Linked DNA regions of Homo sapiens: region 2 is linked to region 1. The links come from fine-mapping of genetic effects on gene expression. A gene starts in region 1. The other region holds a variant in brackets. All regions are shown on one strand. Distances are from middle to middle.

Region 1 (8,437 bases):
TTTCTTTCCTCCATTCCTCCTCCTTTCCTCTCCCTCATTTTTCTCCCTGCAGGTATTAAACTGACACTGTCAGCTCTTCTGGATGGCAAGAACGTCAATGCTGGTGGCCACAAGCTTGGTCTAGGACTGGAATTTCAAGCATAAATGAATACTGTACAATTGTTTAATTTTAAACTATTTTGCAGCATAGCTACCTTCAGAATTTAGTGTATCTTTTAATGTTGTATGTCTGGGATGCAAGTATTGCTAAATATGTTAGCCCTCCAGGTTAAAGTTGATTCAGCTTTAAGATGTTACCCTTCCAGAGGTACAGAAGAAACCTATTTCCAAAAAAGGTCCTTTCAGTGGTAGACTCGGGGAGAACTTGGTGGCCCCTTTGAGATGCCAGGTTTCTTTTTTATCTAGAAATGGCTGCAAGTGGAAGCGGATAATATGTAGGCACTTTGTAAATTCATATTGAGTAAATGAATGAAATTGTGATTTCCTGAGAATCGAACCTTGGTTCCCTAACCCTAATTGATGAGAGGCTCGCTGCTTGATGGTGTGTACAAACTCACCTGAATGGGACTTTTTTAGACAGATCTTCATGACCTGTTCCCACCCCAGTTCATCATCATCTCTTTTACACCAAAAGGTCTGCAGGGTGTGGTAACTGTTTCTTTTGTGCCATTTTGGGGTGGAGAAGGTGGATGTGATGAAGCCAATAATTCAGGACTTATTCCTTCTTGTGTTGTGTTTTTTTTTGGCCCTTGCACCAGAGTATGAAATAGCTTCCAGGAGCTCCAGCTATAAGCTTGGAAGTGTCTGTGTGATTGTAATCACATGGTGACAACACTCAGAATCTAAATTGGACTTCTGTTGTATTCTCACCACTCAATTTGTTTTTTAGCAGTTTAATGGGTACATTTTAGAGTCTTCCATTTTGTTGGAATTAGATCCTCCCCTTCAAATGCTGTAATTAACAACACTTAAAAAACTTGAATAAAATATTGAAACCTCATCCTTCTTCTGTTGTCTTTATTAATAAAATATAAATAAACAGGGCATTTGTTTAGATTTATTTTGTCTTCATGCTCTGTGTATTATATATTATTCGTTTTCACTCACTGTACAACAGATTACCATATGTTTAGCAGCTTAAAACAACACTCATTTATTTCACAGTTCTGCAGGTCAAAGCGAGGCAGGTGTGCATGCCTACCTGGACTGTGCTTAGCTTCTCACAATGCTGGAATTAGGGTGTCGACCAGGCTGTCTTCTCATTTTATCTGGGGGCTTGGCGTCCTCTTCCAGGCTTTCAGGGTTGTGGTGGAATTCAGTTATTTTCAGTTGTAGGACAGAGGTCCCTATTTCTTTGTTGGCTGAGCCACTCTCAGTGCTCAGAGGATGCCAGCATTCCTTGCCATGGGGTCCCCTCCATCGCCAAAGCCAGAAACAGAAAAACTCCCTCATGTGAAATCCCTCTCACACTTCCAGTCTCCTCCAGGTAGAGCCCCAACTCTTTTAAGGACTCACCTGATTAGGTTAGGCCCAATGAGGGTAATCTCCCTTCAAGTTAACTGCCAGGTAAAGTAACCTAATCACTGGTAATATCCTTTCATGTTTGTAGGTCCCTCCATATGGGTCATGGGAAGGGGTGATTTTGGAATTCTCCCATATATTTATATGTTTTTAATAACTTGATGGTGGATTTTTTTTTTTTTGAGGCGGAGTTTCATTCTTGTTGCCCAGGCTGGAATGCAATGGCGCACAATGTCTGCTCACTGCAAGCTCCGCCTCCTGGGTTCAAGCAATTCTCCTGCCTCAGCCTCCCCGCCTCCTGGGTTCAAGCAATTCTCCTGCCTCAGCCTCCCGAGTAGCTAGGATTACAAACATTTGCCACCACACCCGGCTAATTTTGTATTTTTAGTAGAGATGGGGTTTCTCCATGTTGGTCAGGCTGGTCTCAAACTCCTGACCTCAGGTGATCTGCTCACCTTGGCCTCCAAAAGTGCTGGGATTACAGGCGTGAGCCACCACATCCAGCCTATTGTGGAAACACAAATAGTAATAAACTCTATGCATGATCCAGCTTCAACAAATATGAACATTTTTTTCCATTCATGATTTTTCAGCAGAATTCCTTTTTTTTCTATGTTTGAAAGTGACATTCAAAACAGGAACCATCTATTTTAGCATTTTATGCAACTGATCACCCAAAAACTGTGGGCCTCAGTATTTGTCATACTGTCTTCAGGGACTTGCAGCTATTTCTAAGTGAATGTTCATAGAATTTATCCAGAGATTATGGCACATAGTGGTTGCTGGGTACATCTAGTCAGATGTCAGGTACAGTATTAAGATATTTTACTTTTAGAGACAGTCTTACTCTGTCACCCAGACTGAAGTGCACTGTCATCATCATAGCTCACTGCAGCCTTGAACTCCTGGGCTCCTGTGATCCTCCCATCTCAGCCTCCCGAGTACTTGGGATTACAGGCATAAGCCTGGCCCTAAAATATTTAAAAATGTATAAAGGGTTCTCTTGAGTATGAGGGAATATTTCCCTCACTAGTTACTTATTGTCTGCTTGTTGCATGCAGCATGTTGGAATATCATTGTGCAAAATGCTTTGAGTTCATAATATCTCACCAGTTAAGAGAATTGAGACAATCTGGTATGAGGACACAAATGGACAAAGTGGACAATGAGTCAGGGAAGAGGACTGCAGTGTGTTTATTATAGATTAACTTTAAAGTCAACAAGCAGAAACTAAGATTGAGAAGCTCATTTGTTGAACTGAGTGGTTTTACAGAAAACTTAAGTACCGCTCAGAGAAGGGAAGCTCCTGGGGGACTGGGAGGACTTTGCACCTTGGCTAAAGTGGAGAGTTTGCAATAAGGACACCATTCAGTCTAATACGGGCTTCTGGGGGATTTCGGGAAATGTGCAGATGAATGACTTCTTAGTTTTCTTAACACAGAGTTTGTGTGTTTCTGAGCTGTCACCAGGGTGAGATAAAAGCTTAGGGGAAACCAGATTCAGGAGTAGAACACAGGCCCTTTAGAGAGACAGCTCAGCTGTGTCTCTGGGGGATAACAGCAATCTTCGCAGGGAATCATAGAGACCAGAATGGTGAAGCTGTGGGCACAATAAATGTCTTGCTTAACGTCACATTGATTTTCCTGAAATTGATCAAATGGAACTTTTATGAATTGAAGCCTGTATCTGTTTATTAAGGAGACATTTACAGAACGTACACACAGAGCAAAGTATGGCGCCAGGGCCCTAGGTGAACTTCTTGGAAGTTTGTAAGTTTGCATTTTTATACACTGGGGATTTCAAGTAACAAAATTTAAAAAGAGAAGCTTATTTTAGGAAATCTGAAAGTTATTTTCAATGGCAGCCCCTCACCTCTACTTCCTAGCTACCTTCCTTTCTTTTCCTCCATAATTTTTTTTTTTTTTTTGAGACGGAGTCTGTGGCCCAGGCTAGAGTGCAGTGGCATCTCGGCTCCCTGCAGCCTCCACCTCCCGGGTTACAGCGATTCTCCTACCTCAGCCTCCCGAGTAGCTGCGATTACAGGCACGCGCCACCACGCCTGGCTAATTTTTGTATTTTTAGTAGAGTCGGGGTTTCTCCATGTTGGCCAGGCTGGTCTCCAACTCCGGACCTCAGGTGATCTGCCCTCCTCGGCCTCCCAAAGTGCTGGGAGCCACTGCACTAGGGCCGGTCCATAATATCTTTATCATCTTGTATAGTGTGTATTTTACACCATATTCGCCCTCACAAGAAAATAAACTGCCAAGGCGGGCGGGGGGGTGGGGGGTTCTTTTTGTTCACTGCTGTATCTTAAATAGGGAGAGGTGCTAAATCTTTGTTGAAAAAAAATAAATGACTGTCGGGAAAGATTTTTAAAAATTACTTATAATCCCATCACCGAAATAGGACTACTTAACATTTGTGTTTCTTTCGCCTTTGAGAGAGGAAGAGCAGTTACTTCGCTTTCGTGATCAGTCTGTTCTACAGCTGGATCTTCCTTTTTAAAATGGCTAAAAACGCTATTTTTGGCTGTATAGTACCCAATCATGCAGGCGGCAGGGAGGGGCTCGCTTTGGCCCTCTTCAGCACGTCACACCCTACCTTTAATCCGCAGCCAACTGTGTGGCGGTCCCCACTTTCGCCTAGCGGCAACTCCCTCCTCCCTGCAATCCTTCCTTCTTATTCCGGTTTCCAGAGCACGTCTCCAGGCTTCGACGTCACCACGCTGGGACGTATGTGCCGAGGGCCGCGGCGTCTGACCTCATGGCGTAGAGCCTAGCAACAGCGCAGGCTCCCAGCCGAGTCCGTTATGGCCGCTGCCGTCCCGAAGAGGATGAGGGGGCCAGCACAAGCGAAACTGCTGCCCGGGTCGGCCATCCAAGCCCTTGTGGGGTTGGCGCGGCCGCTGGTCTTGGCGCTCCTGCTTGTGTCCGCCGCTCTATCCAGTGGTAAAGGGGGGCGGCAGTGTGGGCTTAGGAAGGCTAGGAGGGCTCGGGCGCAGGGCAGGAGACAGGCCGGGCCAGGGAAAGGGCGCTTCCAAGTGTCAGGAGCAGACGGCGGTGTCTGGTTGGGTCAGGGTCTCCGCGGGCCTGAGGACGGAGGGTATGGTGTCTGAAGGGGTCCAAGGTGGTAGGGTCTCCAAGGGGCCTGAGAAGCGGGGTCCCTGAGAGATGCAGGAACCCAGGGAGCAGGCAGCAGGGTGTGTAGATGGGCGGGGAGGGAGGAGTGGTGTTAGCGCCTAGAGATCGTTGAAGAATGGGCTGCCGCAAGGAATGGCGGTGGTGGGGTCTCCAAAATTTCTTGGATCGGAAAGTTAGGAGACTCTGGAAGAGAGGGTGGCGACAGGGGCTGAGGAGGTGGCCGGGGCTGGGGGTGTGGTGTCTGGAAAGGGTCCTGAGTTTGGGGGACTCAGGAATCTTGCAGGACCAAGGAAAGGTGGGGGTTTTCCAGAATGGGAGAGGTCAGTGGTAAAGACCGAGGCGGGCAGGGGCAGTAATCCAGTGACTGGACTGAACCAATGGAATATTTCCGAGAGGGAAAGTGAAAGGGAAAGAGCTGTCTTAGGGTACTGGTGCATATTTGAAGACTGGGAGGTTCTGGTGTTTGATAAAGATTCAGAGTACTGGGGCGTTGGGCCCCTGAAGGCTTGGGAGGCAGAGAGGAGTTTGGAGACAAGGGAGATCATGATTCCTCTTCCCTGTGTTCCGAGTTAACCAGGATAACCCTGCCTCGTTTTAATGCATCTGTAGGATTTGATTGATAAAATATTTCATTTCTTGCAAATGTTGCATGGTGAAATCAAGAGATTGAAGGCTTTTATTGAGAAATTAGGAAATCTGTAAACCAGTGCCTGATACTTGGTGGGAAAAATCCACTATTAAGAACTTGTAAGGATTAAACGGTATTTTGTTTAGTAGTCCCATTTTTCTTTCAGGCCAAGACACAGTCCTGCGTTTCTCCCTAAATTTGAATTTTCAGCTGCAAAACAGTGTGACCTGGTATAGTGTTTTCTTTCTTGCCAGCAGGGCCTGTCCAGCCCTACATTCCTCTGCGACAGTACTGTGGGTACATACTTATGTTTCCTCAGCAACATTTCAGTGTTGCTAACTGGACGCCCTCCCAGAAGTCTTTGCAGTCCCTGAGGAAGGACTGCTGTCCATTTCCTAAGGCCCTTTTATCATTAGTGAAATGTAATGAGGATTTCCCTGGTTGATGCAGATATTCCCGTTCCTAAAGTACTTAAGTAGCTTAATTGTTTTGGCCATTTAATCATCTAAGAAAAATAAAACACAAACATTTATATTTCCTGCTGGAATGCTTAAGGGATATATATCTGGCAACTGTAGTTTCAGAAACAGCTTTTTTCCCCTAAGAGATGGTTGAAAATTGGGCAAGAAGTGAGGCAGAATGTGGACTGTTAAGTGTCCTTTAGTCTCTGCTTTTATTTGTTAGAGCCCTATAAATATTTTTCTAACTATACTGAGACATTTTAGAGAATCTTTATCTTTTAAATTAAGTCTTTACATACACCAGTTTAAAATGTCATAAATTCAGATTATTCTGTCCTGAAAAGAAGCTAAATGAAAACGAACATACATGTCTTTAATAGGCGAGCAGCTCCACTGCACTACAGTGTAGCTTGGGATATAAGTATTTTTTGTAAGCATACCTTATAATTTCAAAGTAGTCACTCCTGTAATAAGAAAATTAGTCTAGAATGTGTTGAGTTCCAAATTTCAAGTGAGTTTACAAAGGTAGAAGGTTACCACATTAGATTTATTTAAATTTGTTCCATATTAGGTTTTAAAAACTGTCAATGCTTGGTTATATGCTCGTCAGTCTGTAAGAATTTTTGTTTTATGTTTTTGTTTTGATCAAGTCTAAAAAATTAACATAAGCAGTTTGGATCACTGGGTGACTAATTCTTGGTCATGCCATTTCAAAAATGCCTGGTTCTCTACATTTGCCATTATATTGTCCCCAAATGATCACCTAAACTTAATGTATAATGCATTTCATTTTTAAGGCATTGTTTCTCAAACCAGTGTGTGAATGAGTTCTCGGGGTCCTCTGCATTCTTAAGTTTAAGAAATGCTGATATAGTTTTATTTTAGGGCAGTTTTTAAAAAGGGACCAGTAGAAGGGGAGAATTAAATTTATAAAGTTTTGTTTTTTGTTTTTTTTTTGAGTCTGTCGCGAGGCTGGAGTGCAGTGGCGTGATCTCGGCTCATTGCAACCTCCGCCTCCCGGTTTCAAGTGATTCTTCTGCCTCAGCCTCCCGAGTATGCTGGGACTACAGGCGCGCACCACACCTGGCTAGTTTTTGTATTTTTAGTAGAGACGGGGTTTCACCGTGTTATCCAGGATGGTCTCAATCTCCTGACCTCGTGATCCGCCCGCCTTGGCCTCCCAAAGTGCTGGGATTACAGGCCTGAGCCACTGTGCCCAGCCTTTTTTGTTTGTTTGTTTGAGACAGGGTTTTGCTCTGTCGCCCAGGCTGGAGTGCAGTAGCACAAACTTGGCCCATTGCAACTTCCGCCTCCTGGGCTCAAGCAGTCCTCCCACTTCAGCCCCCTGAATAGCTGGGACCACAGGTGCCTGCCACCGTGCTCAGCTGATTTTTGTATTTTTGTAGAGATGGGGTTTTGCCATGTTGGCCAGGCTGGTCTTGAATTCCTGTGCTTAAGCGATCCACTTGCCCTGGCCTCCCAAAGTGCTAGGGTTACAGGCGTGAGCCACCGTGTCCGGCCTAAGCTTTATTTTTAAAATGTTAAGCTTCAAGTAGAGAGGTAATATCAATTAGGAAAGGGAAGATTTAGAAGTCTTATTTATATGCTCATAGAAGGTCAACAGTTAAATCCGTAAAGTCAGAGTTGTACCTTTGTTCTGAATACTCTTCATATCTGACTTAATCAACTTCTCTGATTTGAAGGAGTTTGAGTAAGTTGATAGCCTTTGTATTACATGTTTCAGGTCAATTATTTGTTTTTTCTTGTGCTGTATTTGTGTATTACTTCCAAGATTTTACTGCTTGACTAAGACATTCTGCTCCTACTTGGTGCTAGGTATTGGAGTTAAACAATGAATAGGGTGATACTGGGGGTATCCTTAGAAGAATGAGTGGCGTTTTGCTGAGAACCATGGCATGGGCTCTTGAGGGAGTGCAGTAGGTGCATAGATGCTATGTGGGATGTGGTGTGGGATTTGTGGTGAGAGTTGAATCGAGAGCATATTCAATAAATATTTATTGAGTGCCTGCTATCTATTAAGTAGGTAATGGGGATAGAGCTGTTAGGGAGATTAGTAAGATAATGAGAGTGAGGTAATGGGGGCCAGATCATGTAGGATCTTGAAGGCTATTATAAAAATTTTCACTTTTGTGAGAAATGGATGGCCCTAGAGGGTCTTAAGTAGAGGAGTAACATTTGATTTAAGTTTTGACAGAATGACTCTGGCTGCTGTGTTGAGTATAGACAGTAGAAGTTAGGGTGGAAGCAGGCAGATTAATTAGGAGGCTATTGTAATAATCCATGTGAGATAATGGTTACTTGGATGAGGCAGGAGCAGTGGAGGGTGAAAAGCCCTCAAATGCTGCATATGTCAGAATAACAGATTGGATGTGGGATGTTAAAAAAAATGACAACTCCAAGGTTTTTAGTTTTAGTAACTACAAAGATGTAGTTGCCATTAATTGAGATGGAGACTAAGTAGAACAAGTTTTTTTGTTTTTTGAGTGGGGCATAGGAATTTATTTAAACTTATTTTGAGATAATTATAGATTCACTTGGCAGTTGTAAGAAATAATATAGAGATCCTGCATATCCCCTACCCAGTTTTCCTAATAGTAACGTCTTTCAAAACAATAGTGCAATATCACGACCAGGATATTAACATTGGTACAGTCAAAATACGGGGC
Region 2 (8,437 bases), 54 kb after region 1:
CATCACAGCTACACACGCCCCTGCCAGTTCTGAAACTGCCTGGCTGTGGGCAGCCCCCCATAGGGCAGGGCTGTAGGCCGAACTGCAAGGCCAGGGAGATGCCTGTGGTGGCTGGAAAGGCCAGGAGAGTCTGAATGCTGAGTATGACGCTGAGCGGCCCAGAGAGTACCACCTGATTTGGTGAGGGCGTCTGCTGGAGGGCGTGATTGGTGAGCCCTGAGGGGATGAGAATGCGGCCTTGAGGCAAACCCACCCTGGTGGCTGCCCGGGTCTGACCGAGGGGAGAGATGCTCAGAGGAGCCAGGGGGAATCCCCTGTGGAGATGGGTCTGGCTCCAGGCTTGGCTGAGTATTTTTGCTCGCTTAGTGATTTAGCACTTTTGGGAAGGTGAGTCCACAGAGATGAGCCAGGACAGGGGACCTAAGTCCGGCCTTGCGGCCTGGGCCACAGGGATGCCGGGAATCTAGAGGAGAGCTTTCCACAGAAGCCCCCAACCTCCATCCCTGAGGCGCGCAGGACCCTGACCTTCAGACCGGAGGAGGGCAGGGGGCATGACCTTGGGCCCCAAACCTGGCTGAGGCCTCCAGCTCTGGAAAAATGAAACTGCTATGACCCTCCTTATCTCCACTCACTGCCAAACAGAGCCATAAATTCCGATTAGGGAAAGATGCTGGTTGGCAATGACATACAAAAAATTCGTGATTAGTGAACTGTAAAAGCTAACATGACATGCTCATAATTGGGATGTATTTACTGCGCGAAAAACGCCACGCTGCCATTTGGGCAAAGTGACTTTGAGGGAACTTTCTCAAGGAGACTGACACAACTTCCCTCTTTTGCTTACCAAACAGCAATAACCATTATTGATGGTGTTTTTCAAATGGCAGCTACAGAGAGAGAGGGGCTGTGATTTCTTGTCAGAACTGCTTTATGGGGTTGTATTTTCCAGGTGTTTAAGGAACCCTGTTCATTTGCGGCATTATCCTGGGTGATTTATGGACCTTCAAAGAGCTTACTTCATTTCAATGTTTTAGGCGTTTCGCTTCTTTACAACAAACCTTATTCCAATACAATCAATGGAGGTTTCTCCTTCTGGCCGGGGAGGGAGTGCCGTGTGGCTTTATAGCAAAATCAATATGAGGATAAATGGACAACAAAGAAGGTCCACTGTCAGAGTGGAAAGAGGCGTGTAAGTCCCTGGCCCAGCAGCAAAGCCATCAGCAGGGGCTTGTCCAGAGCCTGGCTTTACAGAATGTGGCTGCCAGGCGCGCTCCTCATTGACCAGCCCAGAAGGACTGGGAGCAACAAAGTCAGACAGTTGAGGAGAGGGCTCAGTCATGCTTTTCTTAAACATAGTAATAAGTTTGTTTATAAGCGACCCCCCTGCAAGTCTCATTAATGTTTGATGCCGTTCAAATGTGTATTTTCTAATTAAGGTAAAAAAATGATTCTCAAATACATCAAAGTTCCAACATTTGCTTTCTGGGGGATGAGAAAGCAGATGAGTAGCTCACAGCTGGGCCTAAATGTCTCCTAAAGGAGACCTGGCAGCAGCAGAGTCCCTGGAGGAACCCCAGGTTTTCTTGCTCACCCTTTTCCCCCAGTCAATGTCAGGGAAGTCCTCGTATTTTCTCTGGAGACATGGAGGGGAACCATAGCGTGTTGCTGCTTTCAGAGGGTCTTGGAGGTGGGGGAGAGTGTGGGACAGAAAGATGGGGTTCACCATGAGGTAATTGAGGTAATTTAAGACAAATGCAAGCTGCTTTTACTGGAGAAGGAAAACCTTTATGCCTCTTGAGGTCCCTTGGTGGAACATAGCAAATATTGAATTAATGAGCAAACAAAAGAAGGTCAGGCTGGAAACGAAATCAAGCTCCAAGCAGAGTAGATACACATGTAGGGGGTACCTTCCTCCCCTGGGCAGCCTCATTGTGCAGGCAGACGCTCACTGTCCCACCAGCTGGCCTTACATTCATTCTCTTGTGTGTTCATTCAGTGAGCACCTAGGTGGGCCAGGGCCTGCTGAGGACTCTGGGAACACAGTGGCGCACAGGACAGGCAGGCTGCTGCCGTTAGGATGCGCACAGTCTAGAGCAGGAGGAGATTCTAAAGAAGTAGGCATGGAAATAAATATAAAATTACCGGTGATATGTCATGAAGGAAAAGGACCAGGTCCCTTCCCTGGTCCTCAAAACACCCCTGCTACCTTCTGACCAGGGAGATCACTGTTGTTCCTAGTGCTTGATGTATTCACCCCCATCCCCAGGCCTTTATTTAAGCTAGTTCCCTTATAATCTAGTAACCCTCCACCCCCTAATACTCTTTCTAAGGAAGGCCACAGAACACTCAGGGCTGCCACTTTCCCCTTCTGTGTCCCATCTTCCCAGACAGCTCGAGTGGGCAGGGAACTTTTAAGGTTTGGCTCTATGTTAGTTCCCATGCTGAGCACTAAGGACTTAGTGGTTAACACAGAGATACAGTTCCTCTATTCAAAAAAATATACACTCTCATCTTTGCTCTAGGCACTGTTCAGTGTTTACCCCCCTGCTTTGGGCTGTCTCTGTTGATTTTATGCATTAGAGTCCCAGCAAGTCTGCAGGTTCCCAGAAGTTCCTTGGTCTCCCCTGCAGCACATCTGAGCATAGGGCCAGACACAGAGTTGGGGGTCCTACTAGACTTGCTTCTACCTGCCCTAGTGGACAAATTACCTTGCTCTAAACTGCAGTGACTCTGTCACTAGTCTGTAAACTTCTAGAGGGCTTAAGTCATGTGTGGCAGAGATGGCTGACTCCCTACCAAAATCCATTCTCCTCTGGCCATGGCAAAGAGTTGTAGATGGAAAGTCTATCCAGGAACTGCATTTTCCAGCCAGCCTCTATTCTTGCACCCTCATCCCTATGCATCTCAGCATGGGTGTGAGACCAGATTTTAACAATAGAATATGAACAAAGGTGATATACATGCTGCTTCCAGGCCAAGTTCTTTCCCTTTTATCAGCTGGCTGATGACCACAAGGTCCTAGGAGATGGCAGAGTCACAGGATGGAAAGATCCTGGGTCCCGGAATCACTGAGTGGAGAACAGCTGTCCACCCACCTGGGACCTTGGCTTTAAACTCGTTTATAAGCAAGAAATAAACCACCATTTATTAGTGTTTGAGTCTTTATACATATTGAGGTGTTTTTGTTATAGTAGTACAAATAGACCTTAACTAAAATGCCATTTCTCATTCCTCACCTGGCCTGGAATATAGGGAACACTAAACAAAACCATGACAAATGAATAAATGAATGCATGGTTAGTAGCTACTTCCTGGCTTACATTAATAGCCTCCAGAAGGAGGGACTACAGTCCTATGATATCAAGAGTAGAAAAGTGAGCAGAAGTAGCGTGACTAGTCTTGGATTAGATTTTAAATTTTGTGGTGGCTGGGGTGCGACAAGGGAGGATAGTTCTAGAAACAGATCCCAGGAGCTTGTTCTCCTGGATCTGGGCACCAGGGTGAGCCCCATGCTTCTGGCCCCTGCCGGGATACACTTTCTCTGAAAATGGCTCATCTCCCTCTGCCTGTTACTTGTGAGGGAATTGTAACTTAGCCAGAGCACGTCTCTGAAATCATCATGCTTTGCTGGTTTTGTTTTTAAACTTAATTACATATAAACATATATAGAAAAGCAGAGCAAATGATGTAGTGAGCACTCATATGCCTATCCCTAGATTAAGCTAATGTATATATCTTGCAGTATTTGCTTCATCTTTTTTTTCCTAAAGTATCTAAAAATAAATGACAGGTATTTTACCCCTATTTCAACATGCACTTCTAAAAAAATAAGATACTCCTGGCCAGGCGTATCCTGTAATCCCAGCATTTTGGAAGGTCGAGGCGAGTGGATTACTTGAGGTCAGGAGTTCAAGACCAGCCTGGCCAACATGGTGAAACCCCAGCTTTACTAAATATACAAAAATTAGTTGGGTGTGGTGGTGCATGCCTGTAATGTCAGCTACTTGGGAGGATGAGGCATGAGAATTGCTTGATCCCAGGAGGTGGAGGCTGCAGTGAGCTGAGATTGCACCACTGCACTCCGGCCTGGGCAACAAAGTGAGATTCCATCTCAAAAAAAAAAACAAAAAAAAACCAAACTCCTGTATAATCATAATGCCATGATTATACCTAACAAAGTTAACAGTTTCCTGACACCATCTAATACCTTGCCTGTGTTCAAATTTACCCAAACGTGCCTTATAGAAAAGGTTCTTCAGACTGGTGTCCATCAGGGACCAAGCTTTGCATTTGGTTGTTGCCCATGACCATCGGAGGAGCCCAGCAGTCAGGGTCAGTGACTCCTCTAGTCCTGTGGGGTGAAGATGTTTGGATGTGGCTGCAGGACTAAAAGGATAATTATTCATTACTGAGAACAAGCACAAGCACATAATCATAACATTCAGGAATCCATCCCTGGTAATTTATGGCCCCAGTAGTTGAGCACTTATGTCTCTAAGTGCTTTACATCATTTATTAGATACACCCGGGAGCCCCAGCAAGAGCAAGTCAGCATGACCAGGGTTACATGCGGCAGAGCAAGAGACACGGAGTGGCCCATGCAAGGTCACCAAGCTTGTCTGGGCCTGAGTGTGGGCAGTGGCCTCTATACCCAAGGCCTGGCCCCAAGAAGCCAAAGCCCAGCCTGAGAGGGGCTTGGGCACCACCAGGCCCTGGCCAAGCATTTCCAGGCCTAGGATTAGATTTGACCTCCTTCCCTGTAGGGGAAGAAGGATATCAGCTGAAGAAGCCTGGGGACAAATATAGTTTCTCATCAGGTCATGGGCAGGACACCAAAAATCCTAAGTCAGGTCACATTTTAAATGCACGAAGGAAGTTATGCTCAAAGTCCAGCTGAATCCTTCCCCAAGGTAAAAGATCCTTTTGTTATGTGAATAATTTATCTCTAAAGTATCAGATTTCTGTGAACTGGGTTTTCTGAAACTGAGCAAAAAAACACAGGAGTTAAAAGCATGGACCTTGGAATCGAACCCCCTGGATTCCAGACTCTGCCTTCCCACAGGTGACTCACGTGCTTAATCCTCAGTTTCCCCCTCTATAAAATGGGGATTATA[TAA/A]CTCTACCTTATAGAGAGATTATGAGGGCCATATAAGATAATGCTTACCTTAGTGGCTGGCATATAACCAACAATGTTGGCTAGCTGTTATCATTACCAATTGTTAATTTATTAACCAGACAACCGGCCAAAATTGTACAGGAGTTAGCTCAGGTCCAAGGACTCCTAGAGGTCACTCAGGCTATACTAAAACCTGGAAGAAGTCCTCCTGGCACGATGGCCACAAGCTTGGGTTCCTGGTGGGATGGGGATGTCAGAACAGGAGAGGGGAGCTTAGGCTTGGGAGGGTGTCTGGGGCTGGTCTAGGCATCATCCATCACCAAGAAGAATCCCAAACGTAGATCTTATCCAAAGTTCAGCCAGGATGGAGACTTTGTCATGCTATTTAATCTCCTTGTAGTGTTAGTTTCCTTGTCTGTCAGATGAGGATAGTAATGTCCACCTCCCAGCGTGGTGACGACAGAATGGAATTTAGTGTAGAAGTTCTTTGCCCAGGGATTGGCATTAAGTACTCTGAGGTAGCTGCTCTAGGTGCTGACCTGAATCTTAACTCTCCCTGAGGGGTTAAGAGATGGTGGCTGCCACCAGGAGCAGTGACGCTGTAGTGTCCTGACATCCTTCACCAGGTCCAGGGCCCGTCTGGCCATTCCCATCTCCACATTCCAGGTCAGGAGTGGCGAATTCTTGTTGGAGAGTCCTCCTGCTGGGGTGAGTGGACTCCTGGCTCCAGGCGCTCCCTGCTGCAGAGTTCCCTCTCTCTGGAGCAGTTCAGTATGTTCCTGCTTGGAATTCACAGCGGGCTGCCTCTGCTCCCCCACCGCATTATTTTTCGAAGCAATGATCCAATGAAGCAATTACTATTCCAATCGGGATGGAGATCTCTGCAACCCACAGCCAAGCATGGCCTCTGTGGCGTCTGTTACTCTCCTTATCTCTCCCCGGGCCTCCAAAGACCATCTCCATTTTCATGCCCATGGACGATTTATAACAGCTGCAACAGCAAGGCCAGGATCCCCTCTGAGCAGAAACTTTTCTTAAGAAAAGGGGTTCCGCATTACCCCACGCATCTTTGTGAAGAAGCCTTTGATTCCACCTGTCCTGTTTGGATTCTGAGTGTTTTTTCTTCTTTGGAAAGTAAACTTAATTACAATTACGTTTTGGCTGGGCCTGGTGGCTCACGCCTGTAATCCCAGCACTTTGGGAGGCCGAGGCAGGCAGATCACAAGGTCAGGAGATCGAGACCATCCTGGCTAACATGGTGAAACCCCGTCTCTACTAAAAATACAAAAAATTAGCCGGGCATGGTGGTGGGCACCTGTAGTCCCAGCTACTCGGGAGGCTGAGGCAGGAGAATGGTGTGAACCTGGGAGGCAGAGCTTACAGTGAGCCAAGTTTGCGCCACTGCATTCCAGCCTGGGCAACAGAGCAGGACTCCTTCTCAAAAAAAAATTTTTCATTTTTCATTTTTTGAGACAAGGTTTTTCTATGTTGCCCAGGCTGGAGTACAGTGGCACCACCATGGCTTACTGCACCCTCGACCTCCTGGGCTTAAGCGACCCTCCCACGTCAGCCACCTGAGTAGCTGGGATGACAGGCACATGCCACCATACTCGCTTAATTTTTAAAAACTTTTTGTGGAGACAAGGTTTCACTATGTTGCCCAGGCTGGTTTCGAACTCCTCGGCTCAAGAGATTCTCCCACCTGGACCTCCCAAAGTTCTAGGGTTACAGACATGAGCCACCATGCCTGGCCTTACATTTTTTTTGAGACGGAGTTTCACTCTTGTTGCCCAAGCTGGAGTGCAGTGGCGCAATCTCAGCTCACTGCAACCTCCGCCTCCCGGGTTCAAGCGATTCTCCTGCCTCAGCCTCCTGAGTAGCTGGGATTACAGGCGTGCACCACCATGCCTGGCTAATTTTTTGTATTTTTAGTAGGAACAGCATTTTACCATGTTAGCCAGGCTGGTCTCGAACTCCTGACCTCAGGTGACCTGTCTGCCTTGGCCTCCCAAAGTGCTGGGGTTACAGACATGAGCCACCGCACCTGGCCTACATTTTATTGATAAACAAATTATGGCTACAGAGTTTAATTGTGGAACAGCAGTTCTACAGTGCTTGATTGGACATTGTTGGTATATGAAATTACTGCTCCAAGGTACCCTCTAGCACAAATAATTCCAGAGTGGAAGGAAGTAAGATGGGGTAGCCCCCAGAGTTGCTTCATATCTGATTGATGGTGTACAGACCTGGCCATGCGGATCCACATTCCATCTTACATGGCAGAGGTGGATCCCCAGCCTGGAACTGTGAAGAACAGGGACAGGCAGCATCCCAACCATGGGGAGCATTTAACTCCAGCCATGGGATCTTTGCACTTTGAAACAAGCAGTGTGGGCAGGGCGATGCTTGACCCTCTCTATGAAACCTTCCACTCTCACTCCTTCATCCCCTAGAAGTGTCCCTCCAAGAAGCTTAGCTGGCTTGGGCTCTAACCGGCCCTCCTTGACCCCTACCTCCCCTGGAAGCCTTTTCTGGTTAAAACCACTGGGACGACTATGCCTGGTCCACTCTTCTGTCTGGCTGCTCAGTGAGTTCTAGTTCCCCAGTGTTGTATGCCCCTGTAGTCCATGGGCCTCGGCCATTTCTGTAATGAACGTGGACCAACCTAGGACATGGGTAGCAGAGTCCTTGCTCCCCCCTGCGCAGGTATGTGAGCAGATATTCTTGAGCTTCATAAGAGGTTGAAAATCTATGCATCTCGGGTTTCCCAGTTCCGAGGCATTGAGTGCACATGTTGGTGGTTCTTGATTCAAGAAATTGCACCCAGGGTGCCCTTTCACAGGGAGGACAATTGGAGTTCATGCCTGGCCCCTTCAGACTGTGGTGAGGCACTCTGGCAGTGATAAAATTCCTGACTGTAATGCTATTGCTGTCTTATATCCTCTTCTTGCAATAAACCGTAGACTTGTAAGCACTGTCATTTTGGTCCTGTGTGTCTTGTTTAGCCATTGAGCCCTGTCTAACTGCCACCGCAGGTCACTTTTGCTGGGGAAGGGGGGTCTTGGAGGGACCATTTCCTGACATGCTGCAGAACTTCTCCCAGCAGCCCCGCCTGAAGCCGTCTCAATTGCCTGCCGAGTAGGACACAGTGTACACCTGGGCTTACAGGCAACTCCCAAGCCCTCTGGTTAGGATACCCAACTTTTCCCAAAGGGCCCAGCTTCAGAGCTGTCAAGACAATGAGGTGTTTTTGAATACCAACGCCTGGCGTCCCTGCAGGAGGACTCGGAACTGCACTCTCCCAAATCAGAAGCAATGGCA

Alleles and levels. Alleles are on the strand shown, and positions count from the first base shown. SD is a standard deviation of normalised expression in the study named.
For the expression in ileum of the gene that starts at base 4,290 in region 1, allele TAA in region 2 goes with a higher level than allele A (moderate effect, 0.51 SD a copy in CEDAR).

The links. PIP is the estimated chance that this variant, and not a neighbour inherited with it, causes the effect.
Region 2: its variant is the best candidate, but not a certain one, in a credible set for the expression of C5orf15 in ileum (CEDAR, PIP 0.82).

What each region holds. Positions count from the first base shown.
Region 1 is chr5:133,964,478-133,972,914 of GRCh38, reverse strand. C5orf15 (chromosome 5 open reading frame 15) reads left to right here and starts at 4,290. Exons shown (of 3, transcript NM_020199.3): 1 at 4,290-4,469. The coding sequence starts at 4,331. It overlaps VDAC1 (voltage dependent anion channel 1), which reads left to right. Exons shown (of 9, transcript NM_003374.3): 9 at 53-1,044. The coding sequence ends at 144. LOC105379183 (a long non-coding RNA gene) reads right to left here and starts at 4,226. Exons shown (of 2, transcript NR_134247.1): 1 at 4,123-4,226; 2 at 2,692-3,164. RefSeq lists enhancers at 4,147-4,366, 4,997-5,096.
Region 2 is chr5:133,910,724-133,919,160 of GRCh38, reverse strand. WSPAR (Wnt signaling pathway activating non-coding RNA) reads right to left here and starts at 5,484. Exons shown (of 3, transcript NR_131252.1): 1 at 5,165-5,484; 2 at 4,239-4,386; 3 at 1,892-2,106. The variant TAA/A (reference allele first, on the strand shown) is at 5,115.